Regions from separate parts of the Homo sapiens genome. Here all the other regions are linked to region 1. Evidence: fine-mapped expression QTL. A gene starts in region 1. Each other region holds a variant in brackets. All regions are shown on one strand. Distances are from middle to middle.

Region 1 (5,216 bases):
ATTTATTTAAATGAAATGATTCAGGGGGTGAAGAAGTGGTAGTCAGAATCAGAATAACCAAGAAAAGAAAAAACTTACCTCTCTGAGTACACACCCATGTATGGATTATAGCAGCAACCTGACCCACTCTATACAGTTATGGTCTACAAATTAGGAATTCTGAAACCTATTTTATGTTCTTTTTAGGAGAGGCAAGATTCTCAACTTTAGAATGTTTTCTTCAAAAAAGATGTAATATCAGTTATTCCTTTGGGAAAGTTGAAAGAACAAATGAATGGGGAAACATTTTATTTTTGCATATTAGGACATCTTTATAAAATCATGAGGAAAAACAAAAGGGTATCCCACTGATTAGCACTATTTGAAAATCCATTTTTATATACTGGCAGTTGAAGAGAATCTGAAATGACTTTAATATTCACCAGGTCTATTCATTTATAAACTGGTTTTATACATTCATAAAAAAACTGAAATCAAAGATAGAAAAGCATTTACTGTTCTAAAGGGGAAGAGAAAATACTGGGACATGACAACAATTTACTTCAAAATGATGACCAACATTTCAAGGACCCTGATGACCTGACATAACTACTTCCAGTAACTTTGTTCTTCTGGCCAGGCTTTTCCCAGGACAATATAAAACGTGAGAAAAGAGTGCTAAACAAGACATCTACTTTGGTCTGGCAAAATCAGGCTTGCTTAAATGCATAACATTACCTAAGTAGGGGAAAAAAATGTTACTGTGCTAGTTATTTATATTCAGATCCCTTTAAGGCTTATGATTGTAAGTCCCTAACTTATGTTAGGGGTAGCAATTACAAGGACCACACCGGTCTTATTGTCACTTTAATCCAAGGAGACTTCTCTCATCTTGGCACCCCACATATGTATGACATAGAAAGAATAAAGATGAATCAATCCTAATAGTACACAGAAGATAATGTCAAGTGTCATAGGAATTATATAATATATAATGTGGGATAAGAGAAAGGTAAGTTTATATATGATGGAAGTGAGGAAGACAATGATTTTAGTAAGTTTTGGTGACAATTATATTCAAGAACTGCTAGAAATTACTTGAACCTCTAACATATCATGCAGGTTTTTTTGTTTTTTGAGACGGAGTTTCGCTCTTATTGCCCAGGCTGGGGTGCAATGGCGCGATCTCGGCTCACCGCAACATCTGCCTCCCGGGTTCAAGCGATTCTCCTGCCTCAGCCTCCGGAGTAGCTGGGATTACAGGCGCCCGGCACCATGCCCAGTTAATTTTTGTATTTTTAGTAGAGACAGGGTTTCACCATGTTGGCCAGGCTGTTCTTGAACTCCTAACCTCAAGTGATCCACCCGCCTCTGCCTCCCAAAGTGCTGGGATTACAGGCCTGAGCCACCGTGCCTGGCTGCGTTTTTCATCTTTAAACATCATAAAAACGCCTCAAAACTAGTTTCTCTGAAATTTCACACCCATCAGCCTTATTCCCTTATCTTCTCGGAGGAAGACTTCCCTCCACTTCTTTCCAGGCTAGGAAAGGAATATCCTCCATATTGCCACAGGACCTAGGCCTATTAGTACTCTTTCTTGGACATCTGCAACCTCCAACCTTCCTGCCTCCACTGATTCAAACTCTTCGCAGTTCTTAAATGTGCTAAAGATCCCTCCACACCAAAGGTCAATCGTGGATTCTCTCTTAATTTCCTGATAACTGCTTCATTTTCTTCCCTTGCTCCTTCGACTATCCACCTCTTGGCTAGACATCACATGCATGATTACATATACCAGGTAGATCACCAATACGCTGATTAGGCCTAAATGCCTAGCCCTGACTGAATTAGCCCAAACTTACCACTAAACCCACATTTTCAACCTCCTGATAGAATCACAAGCATGTCTCACATGCACATCAAATGCGACCTGGAAAGCAAAGAACTTGCTATTCTTCCCCCAAATGACAGTTCCCACTATTTGGGGACAGACCATTTCTACTCTATGTCCCCAAGCTGAAAAACTGTCTTTGCTGCCTTTTTGCTTACTCTTCATACGGATCTATTCATTGATTAGTTCCGTGGCTGTCAATATACAGTTGAATTCTTTACGATCCGGTTTGTGGCCTACATCCAACACCGACTGAGCACTTGCTAAGTACTGGGATCTGAAGATTACTCAGCCACTGTCTCCACGGAGATCATCGTTAACGGGAGAGAAAGCCACGTAAAACACCACGTTAGATGGAGAAGCACAGAGGACACCACCTCCACGAAAAAGTCTCACACGCGAGAAAGGACCCGCACCACAGCACCCGAGCCTCTATTAACCGCCGCCTTCCATCGTGAATTAATACTCTCGCTTTCAGCGTTATTATCAACCCCCTGCAAGCAATCAAGAGGCTGGGTTAAGTCCGGCTGGAGGGGCAGCAGGCATCCCTGGGCTGTCGCGCCTCCCAGCGCCCCCGATGGAGCAGGTGGCAAGGCTGCAAAAAGAATTTAAGGCTCTAGGAAAGAGGTGGTGCAGCCCGCACTCCAGTCCCCGGCCCGCAGCAGGCAGAGGAGGCTCCGGGTCTCCTTCACCCGGACACCGCCGGCGGAGAGGTCCACTCCCGTGCCCCTACCCTGGATGGATCGCTTACCTGAGGACCCCCAAACAGAGGTGCGTCCGGCCTCGCCTCCCCAGCCACGCGCAGCCGGCTACCCAGAGTCAGCTCCCACAGTCCGCACCCAGAGTCGGCTCCGAATTGCGCACGCGTCTCTGTCCGCGGCTCCCGCTCTCTCTCCGACGGCACTAGGCCTCCAAGGATGGAGGCGCCCTCCAGGGGAAAACGCTGAAGCGCTGCAAAGAAGCCAGCGACTCAATGGGTGCGTCAACTAGGCAGCCGCAGCACTGGGAGTGCGGCGCGGGAGTGACGTCACCAGGCGGAGGGGGCGAGGCCGGGCCCGCTTCTGGTCACTTACGGCGGCCGGCCTTCTTTGTAGGCCTGGCACCGTAGAGGTAGAGGAGCTACATTGGCCGCGTCCCCTGTCCCTCTGCCCTCTTGCCCATCTGCCCAAACTTTTGTATTTGATCTCTGTTTTGATGTCGAACCCCAAAGCACTGTAATTGGGGGGGGCGGGGGGGGGGGTGGAACCTGCGGACCTGAGAGCAGCGCGCGTGCGCACGACACGCGCTGTGCGCCGGAAGAGCACGCCCAGTCCGGGCTGCGCGGAGGAAGCGCTGGGGTCCCGGAGGGCGGGGGTGGCGGCGCCGGAGGTCGCCATGGCTACCGAGCCCGAAGCCGCGGAGCCGGTGGTGCCTTCGCTCGTGGATCGATACTTCACTCGCTGGTACAAACCGGGTAAGTGCGGAGTGATGTTGATCCCTCCTTGGCCGCACTGGCCTAATGCTGTGTAGACTATGTTGACAGATCATAAGCCACGCGCGCTCTCCCTGGCTCTCCGTCCCCACGTCAGAAGGCACTGGACTTCTGTGTTCCGTCTAGCCCCAGGGAATGGCATTTGCAAAGACCTGGTGGCCTGAAATACTTCAGGGCGCATTCTGGGGCCGGCGATTGCAGTGCGAGCTCTAGGGTGTTGCTCGCAGTAAGATGAGTACTCTAAACGGAGGCCCCAAAGGTAGGCGGAGGGCTAGGTTGCAACAGTCCTTAAGTGCCTGGAGGGATTGAGGGGCTCACTCTCACAGGGAGTAGCGATACATAAAATTATTTAAATGATCAGATCGAAACTAAGGTAGAGGCAGTAGGGATGGCGAGAAGAGGGTGGGTTAGATTAGAGACATTTAGAAAGAAGAAGAATCTATACATTTACCTTAAGAGACGCCATCTGCCACTTAGAAGTAGGTATTCTTTTTGTACTGTTTTGTGTAAGCAGAACCAGTGGTGGGAGCATCGTTGGGGACTCTCCTTTCTTCCTTTCATTCAGTGATAATGGTTATACTCAGTTTAAAAAATATATATTGTAGCATATTTTCTGTTGGCCAAACATAGGGTGACCAACCTGTCCTAGTTCACCCATGACTGAGGGGTTTCCCAGAATGTCGGACTTGCACCAACATCAGGACAGTCCTGGAAACCACCAACAAAAAATATATATCATAAAGAACGGGATGCTAATTGCATTTTCCTAGCAAAAATACTACGTGTACTCATTTTGAAGTGAGTGTAAAGTAAGATGGAGCAAGGAGTTAATTACCTTAATGTTGAATAAATTATTCTATCTGGGCCAGATCTCTTTAAATACTTTCTAGGAAACCTTTAGGTATGTCTTTTTGAGTAATGAAGGGATACCCGTGATCAGCATGCAGCATGTATGTGTCCAGTCTTCATTATCAACTATATGACCCAAAGAAAGTACCACATAGTGGTAGTAAATATTGATTTCAGCCACCAACAGACTCATGTATTCTTCTAGATGTCAAAGGAAAATTTTGTGAGGACCACTGTATACTACAGCACTCTAACCGGTAAGCAAATTGGGAATTTTAAATTATCAAAAATTTTTTTTTCCTGGTATTGTAGCCTGGTATGGTCTTGTGGTCTTGGATTGAACAAATGTTCACTAAACAAACATGCATTAATTATCTTCTACTGTGTTGAAATGGTATTATTATAGGAGTTTGTTTGGCAAGAATGAGTATTCCAGTGCCTGGCCACTCTGAACATATAAATTTGATTACTCAAACATCCAAATGGAGGACCACATCATCAGCTGCTACTTGAAGTGGCCAGTCTGTGCCCAACTACTGAACTGTTCAGAGCCCACAGAAAGGGCTACGGTAGAGACATGTATGGTATCTCGTATACACAGGCATGCCTTATTTCTTTGTCTTCTACCCCAGTGCTACCTACCTAAAGACCTCTGGTACTCTTCCCTTTCCTGGGAAAGAAATTCAATCTTGTTTTCTCTTTTATTATTGTATTCTCTATTCTACAGTTATGCCCCAATAGTAGCCAAAGGAAAAAGGGGGAAGATGATAGTTTGACTAAACAAATACCAGTTCATACATTCTTGTTCCAATAGGAGTTATGGGAGGAAAAATTATTCCAAGCAATCACACAGGATCAACTTTTTCTCCTTGTAGAATATGTGTCATCACATTGGCAGAATCTCATCCAGTTCTTCAAAGTGGAAAAACAATTAAAAGCATTTCCTATCAGATCAGTACCAACTGTAGCAGACTTCAGAACAAGGTCTCTGGGAAATTTAAGCGGGTATGTTCCTGTAATTCTGTG
Region 2 (5,000 bases), 39 kb before region 1:
GCTGTTAAGAGGATCATATAACACATTTAACTTAGAAGCAAAGTGTGTGGTATATAAAAAAAGCTAAAGGGATGCTTTTTCAAGCAAACAAAAATTTCCCTTTATGCTGAAATATATGGGAAAGATCTGTACTTGTTAGGATAATCAGACTTACAGCAGTAAGGTTGGGCTAGAGGAGGGGTGGGAAAGAAGCAGGGAACCCCACGAGGAAGGTGCTGTGGTATTCCAGATGAGGAATCAGAGAACAGGTCAGGACCATTCTCCCAGATAAGAAGTTCAAATTGAGGCTAATTAGTTTTAAGATAAATTTTGAAGCCAAGGATGGTGTTATGAACTTAGGATCCTCACTCCTTTCCTACTAAAGCAAAAAGCAAAACCAGGAGAGCCTCATTTTCACATACCACATACCTGGTACTGTTGTGAGCTTGGTGAATATAACTTCAGAGCTTCGTTATACAAGTTTTTATCTTTTATCAAGTTTAAGCATTCTGGGAAGTACTCAGGTCCTGCAGGAAAAAGATTCACACAAAGACAGGCTTAAGACATGGGAAGCATAATGGACTTCATTTATACCAATGGTCACCAAACAAAATAAATGAGGAACTTTTTAAGACCTAAATAATCAGAGAATCTGAAGAATGGGATCCTGGAATTTGAATTTTTAATGAGCACCACTGCAGATTCTGAGGCAAGAGCAGCACTGATTGGGATCAGCATCCTACTTAAGAGTCCCAGCTTTCCAGCCCAGTGTTTTCTCAGCCTCCTTGAAAAGACATCACCTGGGAAGCTTATTAGACACATGCACGCCTCAGTCCTATCCCAGACCACCTGAATCAGATTCTCCAAGGATGCCAGCAGCTGAAGGCTTAACATGCACCCCAGGTGATTCTTCCTTTCCCCCATCAGTCCTCAGTAAAGAATCACAACTGTTCCAGCATGGGAAGAACAACTGGCACCCCATCACTGTCAATTAAAACTGCGTCTTGCAGGGCACGGGGAGGTGGCCTCATCACTCTCTCCAGACAAGCAGAGTTTCCCTGACATGTCTGCAAACAGCATGAGAAGGAAGAACTGACAACCAATTTTGATTCTGAGACACTGAAGTTAACTTCACAGGTGCTCATTCTTAACCAAAAAAGGATCTACTTGACGTTCTTACCTAGGGAGCTCCTCCAGTTCATTAAAAGTGATTACCTTCAGCTTTTCAGAACACAGGACAAAATAACGTGAGCATACATAATTGTTAGAGTTTTCAGGAGTGGGAAGTGAAATCAGTCACTGTCTAAACTAACAGTTTAATTTATACCTTGCCTAGTTCCAAAGAAGATCTGAAGTAGAGATAAACATACTAATCCCCACACTTACCACATTTGCTGAGGTGGCCAATGGCTTTTTCATATCGTTTCAAGTATTTGTCTATAGTAAACCGCTGATAATTAGTTTCCATTTTCTTAAGTGTATTAAGAAATGGAAGATATTCTTTGGGATCCTAAAAAAATGATTAATGAGAACTTTATTACTTGTGATATTCATATATAGGAATAGAAACTAGCATTTACATATAGCAATAAACCCAAAGCTACATAATTTTTAAATGTGTATTATATATTAACTGCATATTATATAATATATAAAATCAAACTACAGTTGTCCCCCAGTATCTATGGGGAATTGGTTCCAGGACACCCCAAGGATACCAAAATCCAAGCATACCCCAGTCCTACATTTGACCCCATGGAGCCTGGATACACAAAATGTTGGCCCTCTGTATCTGCAAGTTTCAAATCCTGCAAATATTGTACTTTTGATCCACACTGATTGTGGATGCAGAAGCCGTGGACACAAAGGGCCAACTGTGTTTGAGAGAGATCCACATTTAGATAAACCCACACAGTTCAAACTCGCACAGTTGAAACTCACGTTGTGCAAGGGTCAGCTGAACATCAAACAAGCTTTGGCAAAAATGCTTTCACATACGGATATTAATAAGTTACACTTGGAATAATAGTAACTTCCTTAACTAAGTCTCACAGTATCATTTATTTCATAGGCTAATAAGGGAAATAAGGTTTCAGTCTAGAAGATATTCAACAAATGCATCTAAGTTTCTCCTAAAAGTCTAAGACATTGCTCTTGGTGCTGTTTTCATGACATTCCATGCTCTCCTGAAATGATCACATTAAAACAAACATAAAATTATACTGAGTTGGACACAAAACTCTGAGACCCTGCCAACCTAGTATTTATTGGCACTATCATCTCCAGCTCTATGCCATGCCCTGTAAGCAAATTGTTTTTCTTCCTAATGGAGAGGTGTTTCCTGTTTTTAATGCAATTTCCCTGGGCTGACAGGATAAATACATGTAAGAACAACATAGGAAGAAAACCCAAGACAACAAATAATTAAGTGCTCATTCCCAGCACTCTGGGAGGCCGAGGCAGATGGATTGCTTCAGCTCACAAGTTTGAGACCAGCCTGGGCAACATGGCGAAACCCCGTCTCAACAAAAAAAATTCAAAACTTAGCC[G/A]GGCATGGTGGTGCACGCCTGTAAGCTGAGGTGAGATTGCTTGAGCCTAGGAGGCGTAGGTTGCAGTGAGCCAAGATGGTGCCACTGCACTCCAGCCCGGGTGATAGAGCCCGACCTTGTCTCAAAAATAAATAAATAAATACCGCACTCTAGATAAAGACACACTGTAGTCTGCAGGGGTAGGCACTGTGTGCAACAGAAGCATATAGGAGGGTCACCTCACCCAGTCCCTGGAGGGAAGCATGAATGGCTTACTGGGAAGAGGCCACCTTGGCATCCTTTAACCTAGATTAGTGAGAATTAGCCAGGGGAATGGTGAGGGTGGAAGCAGTCAAAGCCCATGGATGGCAGAAGTAATGCTGCCCACCAAGGCATGTGGTGGTGAGGGGCAAGGGAAGGGGGACAAAAGCATTGTCTTTCCTCCATGGGCAGAGGAAAAAAAGACAATACCAAGAAGTGAGAATGGAAAGATACACAGAGGCCAGGTCAAGGAAGGGTTTTTAAGCAGTATTATGGCTTCTGAATTATATCCTCGGAACAATGGGAGCTCATGAAGTATTTTAAGCAGAGAGATGAAGGATCCGATTTTCATTTTTGGAGAGGTCATGGGGAAGAGACTGAGGCTGCAAAAAAATAAATAAAAAATATGCATACCAGTGGTGTTCAAAGTTTTTGATCATAGCAAATGTACCAACATAGGAAAGGAGGCCATGAGCCTTCTGTGCTCCATGTGCCCACCCTCCACTAGAAAAAAGAGCCATGTGAGAAAGAACCGGAGTGGAACATGAACCACTTGTTACATTTCCTTTATAAGAGAAGAAATTAGCTCACACATATGCCCATCATCTTAAAAATAACCATGTAATTTTAGGCCGCACATGGTGGCCCACACCTGTAATTCCAGCACTTTGGGAGACTGAGGTAGGCGGATCACGAGGTCAGGAGATGGAGACCATCCTGGCTAACACAGTGAAACCCTGTCTCTACTAAAAATACAAAAAATTAGCCGGGCGTGGTGATGGGCACCTGTAGTCCCAGCTACTAGAGAGGCTGAGGCAGGAGAATGGCGTGAACACGGGAGGTGGAACTTGCAGTAAGCCGAGATCGCACCACTGCACTCCAGCCTGGGCGACTGAGTGAGACTCCGTCTCAAAAAAAAAGAAACAAAAAAAAGCCATGCAATTTTACTTCACTTCTTCAACCTCACAATCAAAACACTTTCATAAGCACAGGGGCTTAGGAATGTGGGCCCTAGAAACTCACAGATCTGTCTCCAGCCCTGCACTCACAGAGTGATAGCAGAAAAGCTACTGCACTACCAGAAGCAGGGTTTCACACTATCATTATATAAACAAGAACCAAATGGCATAAAAGTAAGAACTCCACATACCTTCTGTGACTTCTCAGCTACCATGAGGACCAAATCAAAGTCATAGGTGCCAAGAGAATGATCATATAATTCATTAACATCTACCAGATGCAGCAAATATTTCAAGGCCTCTTCAGCACTCACAGCATCAGGATCAGAGGGAGCATTTCCTAACAGTGTTTAGAAAACAAAACAGAACACAATCATTTGGGGAAAAAATCCACAGACCTAACAACATAACCAAAAAGACAATAAATTTTTCTCAATAGAACTGGACATCAGAAGAATATATACTTCTGATACTTTTATATATGCTTTAGAGGGCAGCACTGAAAAAAACTGACAAGGGTCTTAAAATGGCAACTAAAAAGTCACATGTTAAATCTGTGGTGTGGCAATGACATGGTGATTGTCACCTGCAGAAGACTAGTAGCAGTCACGGCCACCTTAAGCACTTTCTCTGTGAGCGGATCTCTACCTTGAAGCTCGTGTACTTTTTGCAGTACAATTTCCAGTTCTGGGGTTGTCTTCTTTACATGAGATGTAAGTATGGATAGGCAGTATCTGAGGTAATAAGTGAAGAACACCAGAATGAGAAAGGTAAGTAGGCTGGACAAGGACAACTACACACTTCGGTTTTTCAAAGGATGCCACCTGGTGACAGCATACATACTTATGAGGATTTATGCTCTCCATGACTGCTCTCATAGCATCGCAGACAAGGTCTATTTTATTCCCGTCAGGATCCCTGGACAGGTAGACACTGCTGGTAACTGGTGCAGGGTACATGGTCTTCGTGACATCTTCTTCTCTAAGAACAGGTGTGTATGGAATGGTCATCAACAGAACATGTAGCCCAGCGATCAAATTACTAACATACACCTGGCATGCTGATGATGATAAATAAAAATGACTTTTGGAAAAGAGTTGAATTATAAAAATATTGAGAAATAAAACATGTCCACAAAAGACTTATACAAATGTTTGTAGATGTTTTAGTCACATTAGCCCCAAACAGGGTAGTACAATCCACATGTCCAGCAACAGGGGAATGAATAAGCAAATAGTGGTGTATTTACACAACGGCATACTACTGACCAATA
Region 3 (5,000 bases), 22 kb before region 1:
CTGGCTATTTCCTAAACACAACAGGCACTTCGGTGGTTGCTTTTTACTCTGCTTGGAACGCTCTTTCTTTTTTCTTCTTTGCCTTCAAGCATAGAATGCTTGGGACGCTCTTACCCCAGATGTCTGCGTGGCTCCCACTGTGATTCTCACCAGGTCTCTGCTTCAATGTCACCTTCACAGAGAGGCCTTTGGGATCACACTAAATAGGAAAGACACCTTCCCCCTGTAAACCCTTATCCTTAAGCTCTCCCTACCCCTTATTTTGCTTAATTTTTCTCCACAGCACTTGCCATCTGATAGATCATATTTAATTGATATCTTTTGTCTACACCTAGAACAACAAGTTGTAGACAAAGTACAACTAGTTTTCTAGTACAACAAGCCAAGTACTAGAAAAAAGCCTGGCATATAATAAACAATCAAGAAGCAATGAGGGGGAAAAAGGAGTGATACTCAGGATGCATCAAACACCATCTTTGAAAACTTTGGCAACGAACTTGTCTCCACACCACTCAAATGTCTACCACTTGACTCCAAGTTCTTAATTTCCCTTCCACTTGGGCACGGAGCCCTGACCTGTTCCAGTCCAAGATCTCTTTTTCCAGATTCTCTTATATCCAAACTCTCCCCAGTGGGTTCTTTAACTTCTCAGGGTTTTTACTTCATGGATTTGTTATGATCTTTCTCTTCTTTCCATTTCTATGAACACTGCTCTGGCTCAAGCTCTTGCTAGCTCCTGCCTGGACACTTGACAACAGCTTCTCCTAACTAGAATCTCTGCCTCCAGGTGCCCCTGACCTATGGCCAACCCCACATATTGATGCCGAACAATCTTTCAAAAGTGGAGCTCTCAACCTGTCCTATCTCATCACAGGGAGTTTTCTCTCAAGTAAAATGAATGCAGGGTGGTACAGGGTTTCATTCTGAGGAGATAAAAACGTCCTAAAATTGATCGTGGTGATGGCTGTACAACTCTGTGAATATACATATATATACATATACATATGTATATATATTCATACACACACATATAAACCATTGAATTGTACACTTTAAATAGATGAATGATATAAAGCTATTTTTTAAGTGAATGCAGAACAAAACATACCATACATCATAAAGTGACATATAAACTCATTAGCATCATACAGTTAAGTCCCACAAAAGCTTACATCTGATTCTTTTTGCCTTGACAATGAACATATTTGCACTTTTTTTTAAAGCTATTTTGAAAAGTTTAAGGAGGACTGTAACAGCATTTTACACACTGAAACTATAATCAGAGAAACTGGTGATACATCCAGATAGGATCCATGTACACAGTGGGCTGCTGACTTAACAGAAAAGCTGATATGAAAGTAAGGACTTCCCATTTAAATTAATTAATTTTGATTATTCTCTCTTGGCAACTATCTAGGCTTTTTCTGAGAATTCAAAAGATATTTGAAAACAAGGCTAACACTGCCATATGCCAGCAGAATTTATGACATAACCACAGAACTCACAAGTAAAAACAAATTTCAGATTCTCCAGCACATCAGGAAAGTAATGAAGAACTGACAGCAATGGGGCTGTGGCAGGACAAGTGGATTAGGAGCTAGAACACCTGTGTTGAGGTCCTTGTCCATTCTTGTTCAAACAAATTACAAAACCTCTGACACTGTGTTCCCTCATCTACAAAAGAGGAAAACCCCATCTCTGACACAGCTCCTAGGAGGGATGAGATCAACTGAAAATATGTGTAAAGGCTATGAAAAGAGTAAAACATGTTAACAATGTATAACATACTATGTTATTTCCAGAGTCCAATGTTATTCTTAAATAACTGACTCTTCAAGTCAGTAAGGGAAAAGGAATGGCTCGTACAAACCAGTATAGGATTAAAAAAAAAAAAAACAAAAACCCAAG[G/C]CAATTAAATATCATAATGATAATGATATCAACTGCAGACTTAAAAATTTTGAGAAACACTAGACCTATGGCAACACCAAACTATAATTTGCTTTTATGTAGGAGTAGAAGGGACTTGATTCAGAACATCTTGGCAAAAGTTTTATAACATACCACATTTATAAACAGAAATCTGGTTACTGGCATCTAGAACAGCAAGGTCATTACTCTTTTGAGGGTGTGCTAAGAATGTGACTTGATTCACAGGGTGTGGGAACAGCAGTTGGTAGGTGCACATGGGAGGCGGAACCACAGTCTGCCGGAAGACTGTCACCAACACCCTGTCTGCAGTGAAAAAGAAAGAAGAGGATTAGACCTAGGGATATTCAATTTGTAAGATAAGCCATCTGAACATCACAGTATATCTAAACAATAATGGCAATTCACAAAAAAATAACTTTCAATGTTTTTCTCAGGAACAAGTCTAAAAACAGTGTGGGATGGGGAAATGTCATGGGTTCTGTCCATAATTGGCTATTGTCACCTCTAGGCCTAGGGGAGTCCATCTCAGTACCTGGAGTTTCAGGTGCCAGGGACTAAGGCAAAAAGGCCAAGAGGTCAGACCTCTAGCTTTAAACCTGGGCCTGCAACCAAGCCACACTAAACCAAGGGAATTAATACTTTCAAAATCCTTAAAGCACTTTCCTATGTGTGGATTTGGTAATAACGCAGATCTGATTAAGTTCTCTATATAGAATACATGACTATAAAATCAGTATTATGTAGAATATTACACAGAATATGAATTAATATACCACCTCACATTACAATCTTAGAAGCCAGTGCTCCCTTTCATATCAGCAATGAAACTATTCATTAAGGTGACTACTTCACTCTTCAGTCTTGCCCTTCCCACCCCACCCCCTAAAAAAACCTTCTACCTCATTATAAAATATAAACCTAATCTTCATATTAGGCAAACGTTTATGCATGAACTGAACATACTGGAGAGGTATATATCAGCAAGCATTTGTATCAGGAAACAAAGCAACACAAGTGGGGTGGTATAAGGGTCAATTATAAATCTGTGTCAGGGCAAACAGATAAAGCTAACACACCCAATCCCACAAGACTGTACTGTTGTCATCCTCTCTACCTAGAGTCAAAGTTTTCAGTGTCTTCAAAGGCCAGGCAAGTAAACGTGTGAAGGCCACAGATGCAGTATAACAGGAAACTGGTGGGGGAGGGGGGACAATGGTTCTCAGGAGAGAACATACCCCACCTTATATCCCATTCAATAAAAAAACAAGTAACCCAAACAGCCAAAACAAATAAAGATTCCCCACTGTTCCAGTCAAACCACCACATCTGCAGGCCCTAGGCTCAGGACCCCTTGCAGGCTCATGGACACACTTCCCAGGAGCTTACTTCCATCAATGACAGCCACATTGGACAAGTCACTTGAATTATCTCCCACGCTCCGGTCAGTCGTCCAGTGCCAATCATAGGCGAGGTAATGCCAGCCCTGACAGAGAACATGCAGCCGGTATGGGGTCACAGGGTCCCACATCAGAGACACAATCTTGCTCTTCCCACAGGTGCTGAAGGATAAACTTTGCTTGAGATACCAGTGATAGTTTCCAACAGTCCAGAGCTGAACTGCAAGGGAAAATGAAAAGAAGGCCGTTAGAGGCTGGGAAGCAGACTTCATCCCACTTGCCAGAGGGGTTCAAGGGCAATCTTTTCTTTTTCAAAGGACCCTTCCTGCTCAGCCTCGTCTCTAAAATAAGAACAATAATAACTGCCAAAAAATAGCTTTCCATGCAGATAAAATATCAAGAATCAATAAGGTCAGAAATATATGTTTATTTTCTTGTTTTTTTTCTATTTTTAACTTTTATTCATATGTTTATTTTCGTTTTTTTTTTTTTTTTATTGACACAGAGTCTCGCTCTGCCGGCCAGGCTGGAGTGCAGTGGCGCAATCTCGGCTCACTGCAAGCTCCATCTCCCGGGTTCATGCCATTCTCCTGCCTCAGCCTCTCGAGTAGCTAGGACTACAGGCGCCCACCACCACACCCGGCTAATTTTTTTTTTTTGTATTTTTAGTAGAAACATGGTTTCACCGTGTTAGCCAGGATGGTCTTGATCTCCTGACCTTGTGATCCGCCTGCCTCGGCCTCCCAAAGTGCTGAGATTACAGGCCTGAGCCACCGTGCCTGGCCCACATGTTTATTTTCAACTTTACTTCCAAACTTTATGATCACAATGGAAGGCTACCAGGAAAAAGCATTCTTTTAGTGGGTTTTCTCATGAAGATTTAGGAAGAAGATAACTTGGCAATTAGAGTAAAAGTATTAAAACACTTAATCCAAGATCTAGACTAGCATCATTGTGTTGTATTGGGCTTAAGATGCTTATTTTCTTTCAGGTGCTTTGCAAGCACTTATGTTCAAGGCTATCTGGGTATTAATCCTGATTCAGCTGTCCAAAGAAGATAAGCATGAAATTATCCTTCCAACATCTATTAAGCAAGCAAGACTTAATCATGCCAAAACCAACCTTTACTAAACAGATGACATATAAATTAAGACCTTAGTTATATTAGGAATTATAGTTATATTAAGAAATATTATTTATATTAAGGATTTTCTCAATCTCCTTGCTCACTAATGCTTAACTTAGTGATCACAGCAAACATAACCTAGTCTCAAACCGCATTATTACAACACTTTGAAGTTAGACCACATGCTGATGTTCTGTGAGCACAGATGTTGTGGCTGTTCTTGTGCAATGTGTGTGTGTGTGTATATATATATATACATGTTTTTGAGATGGAGTCTCACTCTGTCACCCATGCTGGAGTGCAGTGGCTCAATCTCGGCTCACGGCAACCTCTGCCTCCCAGTTCAAGCGATTCCCTTGTCTCAGCCTCCCGAGTAGCTAGGACTACAGGCGCGCACCACCACGCCGGACTAATTTTTGCATTTTTAGTAGAGACAGGGTTTCATCCTGTGCAATATTTTTATGCTCAGCATATCACAGTGCCATCCCTTGACACACTGGTTAATCGGTGGTTCTCAACTGCGGCTGTTTAAAATCACTTGGGGGCTT
Region 4 (5,000 bases), 33 kb before region 1:
CCAAAAAAAGGACAAAACATCTTCGTTCAGATCATATTAGTTTAAGTACAAAGTAAGCTAGAGTAAATGACAGCTTAGAAAGTTACCTTAGGGTTATGATCATAAATCAGATTGAGATTGATTCTCAGCTTTCTCATGCATTCAAATGCCTCTTTAAACATAAGTCTGTGAGAAGACAGAGAAAGAATAGAAAAGATATTCACAAAAACTGAGCTCCATGGGCCCAGCATATTTTCATTATGATACAAACCAGTTATAATCAGATTACAGCCCCAATGCCAAGCTGCTATCACTGGATTTCTACTCTGAAATTACAGAATAAAAAAATCAGGTACCACATTCATTTACCTTCTTAAAAGGTGTAATTTAGTCATCATGACTGTCTGAGAACTACATCTTCACATACATACAACAGAAAATCATTACAGAAGCCCGGGCACGGTGGTTCACACCTGTAATCCTAGCACTTTGGGAGGCCGAGGTGGGCAGAACACTTGAGGTCAGGAGTTTGAGACCAGCCTGGCCAACATGGTGAAACCCTGTCTCTACTGAAAATACAAAAAAAAAAATTAGCCAGGCGTGGTGCACACCTGTAATCCTAGCTATGCGGGAGGCTGAAGTGGGAGGATTGCTTGAACCCAGAAGGCAGAGGTTGCAGTAAGCCGAGATTGCGCCACTGTACTCCAGCCTGGGTGACAGAGCAAGACTCTGTCTCAAAAAAAAAACAAAGAAAATCATCATGGAATTCAGGTCTACTTTTTAAACAAAACATTAGTATAGATCTTTCCAATACAAAGTTTCCTCCAAATAGGTTCAGAAAATCAGTCATTTCCTTCACAAGAGTAGCTCAGGCTTTTCTGGGTCATAGGCCCCGCTGTAAATCTATTGAAAGCTGTGGGCTTTCTACTTGAATAAATACACAAAGACAAGGTTTGGTGTGTACAATCTCCCTGGGTTCACAGGCCACCTAAAACCCACATGTGTTCCCTCAGGTTAAGAGAAGCCCTCCTTTATATGATGAGTGTCACGATTCTTTCTGCTAGGAATCTCCACTACAAAATACTGCATTAAAGTAAAAAAGTTAAAAAAAAAAAAAAGAGCCTCTAAGAATCTGATTGATGATATAGGTAATGAGGGCTTTTCATAATTTTAAGTTCTCGAAATTGTAATAAAATACTTATTGTCTTCACACATAAATCACAAGCTAACTAGTCGCAAACAGTACAATGGCACTTACTTGTCCAACCACTTCCGAATCTGAGCTAAAACCAGGGCTCGATGATGAACAACTTCTAAGTTTCCCCTTGGCATCTTAAATAAATTAAAGCAGTAACATTTTTAATTAAGTAGAAAACATTTAAATAGCCAGGATACACCATTTTACCTAACTCTTCACAGAGAATTACCACAACTCTCTAAAATCAGCACACTTTTAGCAGAATCTTGTTGTTCTCTATATTTATCTTGACTTTCAAGAAAAGTTTCGCTTTGAGCCTTATGGTCACAGCCTGTATCAACACTCCTTTGAATAAAGCTAACAGAAAACTATCAAGGAAAGGTTTACAATAAACGATACAAAGAATAAGAAAGCCTAAAATACAACCTGCAAGAATTATGCTTGGTACTTGGCTGAATGACAATCAGACTATCTATCTTGTCTGAAAAACCAGCTTACCTGTAATACAAGCTTTGTGTCCTGGGGCACAACAGTGACAATCCGTGAACCCCTCTCCACTTTCCGCAGAACTTCCCCATGGGACACATGATTGCTGCTCAGGCCGGCCTGTAATGCTAAACACACCATTAACTAATAAGCCTTAATTATCACAACAAGCCACTCTCCATTAACTGCAATTGAAACCGCACACATTATGTGAAATAGAAGAGAACAAATAACAACCATGTGCCTTAGCTCTCCCACTGAACCTCAAGACTATCAGCCCTGCTGATGAACACGCTCATCCCTGGAACTTGCCCTCTCTCTTACAGAGCCCTCATGCACATTCACATACACAGCTTCTCAAATGATGTGGAGAAACACAGTTAAGAATTGGGGCAACTTCTCTATTTCTTAGCATTATCAGTGTACTATAATCATATCAATGAAAGAAAGATTCCCTATTTCCAAGTTGGAAGCAAAGAAAATAAGTTGGCTTTTTAGAATAAGGAACACACACACACATACACGCCACACACACATACACGCCACACACACATACACGCCACACACACATACACGCCACACACACATACACGCCACACACACATACACGCCACACACACATACACGCCACACACACATACACGCCACACACACATACACGCCACACACACATACACGCCACACACACATACACGCCACACACACATACACGCCACACACACATACACGCCACACACACAGAGATAGATAGGGCATGGAACAGAAGACAAAATGCAGCCAATATCCTACAAACCACTAGATGGAGCGCAGATGTACAGTGGAGGGTGGGCACAGTGGGAAAAGACTACACAGAAGGTAAAACATTGGGGATCTACATAGTAATTCCAAATAAAATATTAGATCAGTTACATAATAAAATTTCCTGAAAAGTTTTTAACTTTAGAATGTGCTGCTTAAGGAAGGAACTCCCTTCCTTGGATGTCTTTACTAAAGTGCAGAATGATTTAACTGAGATATTATGTTGAGATTAGGGTCTAAGTAAAATAACTCTAAAGATTTTCTCCAGCCTAGGACTCCTTGATAAAAAGCCAAAATAAATGAAGAATTCAAAAAGTCATCAAGACTCCAAAAGACATTGGAGAAGGGACCATTTCTGTTTTATACATTGAAAACTTACTTTTAAATGAAGCATCCCTCAGGCAAAAACACTGGCAGGTATGGGAATGGGTTGTCAACAATAAAAACTCATCATATACTGCAAATGA[C/T]GTGATATTTGACGCAACCTGCAAGAGAAGGCCAGAGAGGCATGGGTGAAAGCTAGCTAGATTACTCGGAGCTAACACTGTGAAAAGGATCCAACACCAAACCAAGCCTTGATACCTCAATGTCATTGATGAAAAAGCGACACCTGTCAGTCAGACCAAGGACACATTCCTGCAAAGAAATAAAACTGAAATCACAAGCAATTCTATCTCAAATCAGTTAAACCTACCTTTTCTATCACATAGTTCTACCACCCTATGATTTCACACCTAAGTTCCTGTAATCAGGACTAAAGATAGATACCTAAGACGTGGCTGGTCCAGTGCAAAATGGAATGTGAAGCCATCCAATCCATCAGTGAGCCCTGACATCTCCATCTCCTACACATATCTCAAACCCATCTCCTTTTTCCCCTCACTAACTCCACTCAACCGGTGTTGATCCCATATTCCAGTCTCGTCACTCTCCAATCAAGTCTCTTCTGGGCAGCCAGAATCACTGTCCAAACCATGAAGCAGAACACATTACTCTGTTATTAAAAATCACAAGAAGTTTCTAATCTTTGTTCAATTAAAGAACCCAAATTCCCTCCTATGACTGTCACTGAGCTCCAGCCACAATACTTCCATCCAGTCCCTTGAATAAGATGAGCTCTTGCTAAGCTCAAGGAGTTTGTTGTTCCTTCTGCCTGGAGACAGAGCCTTCTTTTTCTTCACATCTCAGCACACACATCACTGCCTCCGAGAGGCCTTCCTGGACCACCAGATGCAGGACTCCCATTCTCATAGCCACCATCCTCAAATTACCCCTCAAACATCTCAGTATTCTCTACCAGTATACTCTGTCCATTTCCATCACACTCCCAACAAAGGGAATCATTACATTGAAATTAATAGATCACAAGTTCCAGAAGAGCAGGAATTAGTCAAGCGGTTTTGTTTTCCAGCCACTGCATTCTACCATCCACCACAATTATAGGCATTCTAGTATGTGTTGAATAAAAATCTACTAAAACTATTCTCAAGATCACATTTCTGTTTCCCCTCCTAAATAAAATTAACTTTGAATGATTTGTACAACTAGGGATAAAAGGTTGCTAATCACATATATTATCTCATTTAGTCTTCTGAACCCTGATAGACAGATACTGATTTTCCCATTTTATAGATGAATAAGGTGTGGCTTATGAAAGTGAGATCATTTCCCACTATTGTCTAGGCATTTAGTGGAGACCCAAGTCCACCTCCAAAGCCCACGCTCTTTCTACTTAATGCCATCAGTCCCTGGGTAACTACTTTAAGTAAATTTCCTGCTCCGTGTTCACCTACCTCTTCTCCAATCATGGCCAATTCGGTCTGGGTGCATGGATAAGGAAACCGAACAGGAAATCCACCAGAGTTCTTCCATGGTTTAATAGCCAGAGAAGGTGACTCTGCAAGATTCACAGATCTAGTTCACAAATAGCTGATGCGCTCTTTGCAAAAAACCATCAACATCAACATTTGCTAAAACACTTAACATGCAATTTCAATCACTTTTTTTCTCTAATGCTGGCATTATTTATTTATATATATATTTTTATTATACTTTAAGTTCTAGGGTACATGTGCACAATGTGCAGGTTTGTTACATATGTATACATGTGCCATGTTGGTGTGCTGCACCCATTAACTTGTCATTTACATTAGGTATATCTCCTAATGCTATCCCTCCACCCTCCCCCACCCCACGACAGGCCCAGGTGTGTGATGTTCTCCTTCCTGTGTCCAAGTGTTCTCACTGTTCAGTTCCCACCTATGAGTGAGAACATGCGGTGTTTGGTTTTTTGTCCCTGCGATAGTCATCAATCACTTTTTTAAGAGTACGTTAGTTCATTAAAAGAGGAAACAGGAGTAGAATACACTTGCCAATTCCACTCTAAAGCTTAGGGTTTTCCAGGGTAGTTAAAAGACCTGACAATCAATATTGAACTGACAAGATACAAGTACATGTTCTTAAGAACTAAGCATCTATGTAAGTCATAACATGCTTTCCTAACACCTTGATACTCACCCCAAAGGTACTTAAATATCTG
Region 5 (5,000 bases), 56 kb before region 1:
ACATACCACAACCATACTTCACCAATCAAAACCACAATCATAAAATTGATGTCTTAGAACTTAATGTGGGAGGCATGGTGGCTTACACCTGTAATCTCAGCACTTTGGGAGGCCAAGGCAGGAGGATCACTTGAGGCCAGGAGTTCAAGACCAGCTTGGGCAACACAGCAAGACTCCCTCTCCCCATGTCTAGGAAAAAATTTTAAAATTAGCTGGGCATGGTGGTGTGCACCTGTGGTCCCAATTACTCAGGAGACTGCGGTGGGAGGACTGCTTTAGCCCAGGCATTCGAGGCTGCACCAAGCCATGATTGATCATACTGTCACTGCACTCTAGCCTGGGTGACAGAGCAAGAAAAAAATAAAATAAAATAGACCTTAATGTGAATATGTGATCAGAAGAGAAGATCACTCATGGGAGTGGTATTATAAATTATTATCTTCAAGCCGGGCATGGTGGCTGATGCCTATAGTCCCAGCACTTTGGAGAGGTGAGGTGGGCAGACCACTTGAGCCCAGGAGTTGTTCAAGACCAGCGGGGACAACTTGGTGACACCCTGTCTCTACAGAAAATTTGAAAATTAACCAGGTGTTGTGGCATGCGCCTGTAGTCCCAGCTACTCAAGAGGCTGAGGTGGGAGGATCACCTGAGCCCGGGGCGGTGGATGCTGCAGTGAGCGGTGATCACTGCACTCCAGCCTGAGCAACAGAGTGAGACCCTGTCTCAAAAAACAAAAACAATTATCTTCAAAAGTACTACAGTTTTGAAGATGATGATCACATTTCTTCTAAGAAATACCTATTATAATAAATTCAAGAAGTTCTGGGGCCCTGATTCCTAGTTGCTTTTATTTCAACGGTTTGTAAAGTGCTTTTACACACACCCTCTTATTTAACCTTCAAAGCATTCTATTGAAGCACACAGAGAAGTCTTATGCCCATTTCTAAATGAGGAAATCAAGACATGATAAGCGTATGTGTTTCTAAACACTGAGCTGATTTGTAATCTCTCAGCTCCAACCCACCCTTCTATCCACTGCTTGTGGTGCTGGGGCTGGGCACCTGAAAGATATTCTTCCTTGCTGCTGGCTTCCCATCATGTCCTGCCTACAGTGAACACCAGAGGGGGAGTACAAAGCTGGAGGATGAACAAAAGATTTCTAGATTTCTTCCGTGATTGGCTGGCTTTTTTTTTTTTTTTTTTAAACGGAGATTCGCTCTTGCTGCCCAGGTTGGAGTACAATGGCACGATCTTGGCTCATCACAACCTCTGTCTCCCAGGTTCAAGCGATTCTCTTGCCTCAGCCTCCTGAGTAGCTGGGATTACAGGCATGCGCCACCATGCCCGGGTAATTTTGTATTTTTAGTAGAGACGGGGCTTCTCCATGTTGGCCACATTAGTCACGAACTCCTGACTTCAGGTGATCCGCCTGCCTTGGCCTCCCAAAGTGCTGGGATTACAGGCGTGAGCCACCACCACACCTGGCCCGACCGGCTGGCTTTTCCCCCAGCAGCAGCTGTTCCTTCCAGTTTCCATTTACTTCTGTACGCTTGGAACCAGCTCCCTCAGAAATGCCAGGATTAGCTGGCTGGCACCCTCCTCTCAGAGGTTCAAGAGCCAGCTCTACAGGGCCCCACTTCCAGGCTTCTAAATTCTAATAATTCCCAACAACTCCTCCTGTTCCCTCAGCTAGAGGGTAAAGCTGCTTCCTACAGTTACTATCTCAATGTCCTTCCTCTGTATTTCCCTTTTGCCTTGTTTAGTCCTCTAATACTTATTTAACAAATCCATATATTAAATTCTGTGATAAAATAATAGATAGGCTTTTGTTTTCCTTTCTAGATCTTGACTGATACACCAGCCTTTTTGAATCCAAATAAAAACTCTTAACAATAGACTTGAAGTATAAGAGAGTGAACAGAGGTATAAATAATAAACAGATGACAATATACTAGAATTCTGCGATACAAAGCTGATTCAGCCTTAAACACAACCCGCAAAGTCCATCATAACAACATAGAAGTGACAAGTCAAATTTTTCATAAAACAAAAGGAAAAGCAATTGCCTGGGGTCCCTTTAAAGCCTGATCCCATCCCTGAGTTCTGAAAGGAAAGTGAGAGGCCGTCTCTGACCCCATCTTCCCCCATCTCTCCCCACTCCAACCTCATTGAAGGCCAGGAGCAATCATGTGACTTTCCCATTTTCTCCATGACAGCTACTTCATCCAGAAAGGAAAATGACAGTCCATTTAACCTATGCCAAGGTATACTAGTCACTCTACAGGCAAATATCAAATCTTACTGACAGCTTACACATAAATCTAAGATAATTTAACTATGGCATCTTATGTTTTAAGAACAGGAAAACTTTTTGACTTGGAGATTGTGTGAATACAATAACCCATGAAAATGATGAAAAAAATGCACACCGTCTCTGAGAAAACTTACCGGGGTAGCTGAATTCTGCTGGTAAGTAAGAGTCCAAATTTCTGGAAGTGACCTTTCCATCAACTGCAGCGTATCTTCAAAGGCCTTCTGTAATTCCCTTCCTTGTTCATCAAACTCAAAGAGAAAGAGTACCTTTAAAATATGGTATACTTCATCTAGAGAGAAGAAATTTGAAAGAGTGGTAAGTTATATTCCCAGCTCCATTGACAGAATCATACATAGCTTCTATCCAAAGCCAAAAATTTCTATGATCCCACTGCAGGTCCTTTCTCCCACATTATCTTTTTTCTTCCCAAATGCTGGAATAATTAAACACATGTACTACAAAAAGAAAATCAAGCACGCTGGGGGGCCTA[C/T]GCAGAAAGCAGTGTCCCACAATTCTTTATCCTGGCCTAAGCATCTCTCCCAGTTCAGTTAGGGGGATGCCAAATGGAGGAAGGCTTCTCAGTTACCAGCTAAGAAGGGCTGCTTCAGGAATGTGTGCAGACATGACCCTTCCTGCTAAAAGTTCTCATCTTTCCTCAAATTGGGAAAATGGTAGCTTAATCACCTACTGAACTCTGCCTGTCTGTACTGCCTATTCACTATTGTTTGTGGTCAGGAATCATCATCAGGACTGAGAATATACCTTTCAGGTTTTCAGTGTTCTGCACCACTTCACTCAGTGCCTCCAGGAGGGCCAGGTCCTCCAGCGGACTGCCTTCTTTGAGGCTGTGCTTCTTCCGCTCCGCTTTTCGGCGATTCTTGGATGATCTCCTGTTAGAAATTACACAGATATTTTTAAGCCTCCTGAGTAGCTAGGACTACAGGCATGTGCTACCTTGCCTGGCTACTTTCTTGCAGTTGCTGATGACCCCACACAACTTCACAGATCTCCATTTTAAATTCCTAAAGCAAAATTCAGTTTGAATATATAATCTTGCATTGCTTTACACATCCCAAGCAAGACTATAAACTCTTATAACTCATATCTCCTTATAAGTTTTTGGTAACATCTACTGCACCTACCATATGAGTGCTGAATAAATATTTCTGACAAATTACTATATTTGGTAAAAGTGTTATGACTTATTTTACATTTATGGTCTCTTCCAATCCTGATTTTGAATTGAAGAAGCTTATCTTTTCATTTTTTCAGTGCCTATAATTTAGTCACAACATTTGTTCAAAAAATAAAATCAGATGTTAATATAAACTGAGCATTCAGGGGAGGAACTGCCTCGTGGGGAATGGGAAAACACACAAGCCACAAGGCTGAGGAAGAAAACCTTCCAATGCCAAGTTTAATGTCTCAGATATGCTGGGAAAGTGTCTGAACAACTTCCACACAGCGCTGAAGAATATTCTCCCCACTCCCACTACACCGTCCCAGTAGAAAACCAATCTATTTGCTTCCACTTTCCCTATATGCCCAGGATATAGTCAATGTGCTGAATCAATGTGATACGTACGCTGATATCCTGGAGTTACTATGGGAGTATTTGCCACTCATCTCACTGCCACTCACGACACTGCTAGTTTCAGAGAAGAGGTCTGACTCTTGCCCGTGGGGTACCTCATCATCTAGAAAAGAAGAACCAGAAGCCGATGAAAACACTGCCTGCTAATGTGTGGGTTTACTTTCAGGGCGGTAAATGAACTAACTAGAGTCAACTGGTGCATATCAAAGGATGGATGAAAATGATTGCAAAGTTGATCTCAAAATGAATGAGATAATATTAAATACAGTAATTACTAATGTAAATCAGTAGTTTCCTGAACTTTTTTCTGGAAATGAGGAAACTCATTTTGTTAGACACGGAAGTGGTCAGCTGCTCTGGGTGAATGGGGGTAGGTGGGAATGTCTGGCAGAGCTCTCCCCATTCATGCTTGGTCCTGCCCTTCACCAACACACAAACACAGACACAGAGGGCCCTGAAGGGGCTCCACAGAAGCCTCACACTTGCCCATGGCACAGTAATCAGATTGCAGGCGGATCACCAAGCAATCTAGACAATGTGTGGCGTTACCCAACCCCACTGCCCCCGCACGTCGATGGCCTTCACGCAGATACTCACCCAGACCTGCCTGCTGGGCTTGCTCCTTGAGCTCTCGAACTACCAATAAACGTTTCTTGTGGCGACTGAATGTGGCTGTCTGAGAGTCCAGAAATGCCATATAATTTTTCTGGGCTGGAGATGCAGAATGGAAAATAGTTTGAGCATGAGGTTTAAGCAAAGAGAAAAAACTAAAGGCGGGGAGCAGTGAAGGAGGGTTAAAATTCAGCAAAAAGAAAGAGGTTACTAGGTTTTCCAAGCGAGCTCTTTTTCCTTAATAAGCATTAACAAATTAGAGACTGAGATTCCAGATCTTAGAGTTCATCAACATTATCCCAGAATATGCGCTACCACTGAACTTGTAAAATCACCTGAACGAAGACTTGATACCTAAAGCAAGGGAGGATTGGCAAAACAAACAAACAAACAAAACAAACAAACAAAAAAAGGGGGGGTAGGGGAGGGGAGCTCAGTTAACAAAAATAAGAAGAAAATTACCTAAATGTTTCTGGCTAA

The links.
Region 2: its variant is fine-mapped to the expression of ELP1 in thyroid (GTEx, PIP above 0.99). The same link has a PIP of 0.9 or more in aorta.
Region 3: its variant is fine-mapped to the expression of ELP1 in nasal epithelium (TOPMed, PIP 0.96).
Region 4: its variant is fine-mapped to the expression of ELP1 in sun-exposed skin (GTEx, PIP 0.96).
Region 5: its variant is fine-mapped to the expression of ELP1 in whole blood (INTERVAL, PIP 0.98).

Annotation. Positions count from the first base shown.
Region 1 is chr9:108,931,243-108,936,458 of GRCh38, forward strand. It overlaps ELP1 (elongator acetyltransferase complex subunit 1), which reads right to left and starts at 2,882. Exons shown (of 37, transcript NM_003640.5): 1 at 2,622-2,882. It overlaps ABITRAM (actin binding transcription modulator), which reads left to right and starts at 3,158. Exons shown (of 6, transcript NM_017832.4): 1 at 3,158-3,323; 2 at 4,396-4,447; 3 at 5,066-5,195. The coding sequence starts at 3,245. RefSeq lists an enhancer at 2,125-2,354 and a silencer at 3,105-3,384.
Region 2 is chr9:108,892,578-108,897,577 of GRCh38, forward strand. It overlaps ELP1 (elongator acetyltransferase complex subunit 1), which reads right to left. Exons shown (of 37, transcript NM_003640.5): 23 at 4,571-4,708; 24 at 4,376-4,461; 25 at 3,919-4,067; 26 at 1,366-1,489; 27 at 409-506. Among named protein-coding and RNA genes, the nearest start is that of ACTL7A, 33 kb to the left of the region's middle. The variant G/A (reference allele first, on the strand shown) is at 2,529.
Region 3 is chr9:108,908,949-108,913,948 of GRCh38, forward strand. It overlaps ELP1 (elongator acetyltransferase complex subunit 1), which reads right to left. Exons shown (of 37, transcript NM_003640.5): 11 at 3,316-3,546; 12 at 2,062-2,232. Among named protein-coding and RNA genes, the nearest start is that of ELP1, 23 kb to the right of the region's middle. The variant G/C (reference allele first, on the strand shown) is at 1,909.
Region 4 is chr9:108,898,585-108,903,584 of GRCh38, forward strand. ELP1 (elongator acetyltransferase complex subunit 1) reads right to left here. Exons shown (of 37, transcript NM_003640.5): 15 at 4,979-5,000; 16 at 4,255-4,358; 17 at 3,044-3,097; 18 at 2,841-2,946; 19 at 1,676-1,791; 20 at 1,238-1,311; 21 at 87-165. Among named protein-coding and RNA genes, the nearest start is that of ELP1, 33 kb to the right of the region's middle. The variant C/T (reference allele first, on the strand shown) is at 2,929.
Region 5 is chr9:108,875,547-108,880,546 of GRCh38, forward strand. It overlaps ELP1 (elongator acetyltransferase complex subunit 1), which reads right to left. Exons shown (of 37, transcript NM_003640.5): 32 at 4,506-4,619; 33 at 3,900-4,011; 34 at 3,077-3,204; 35 at 2,449-2,603. Among named protein-coding and RNA genes, the nearest start is that of ACTL7A, 16 kb to the left of the region's middle. The variant C/T (reference allele first, on the strand shown) is at 2,805.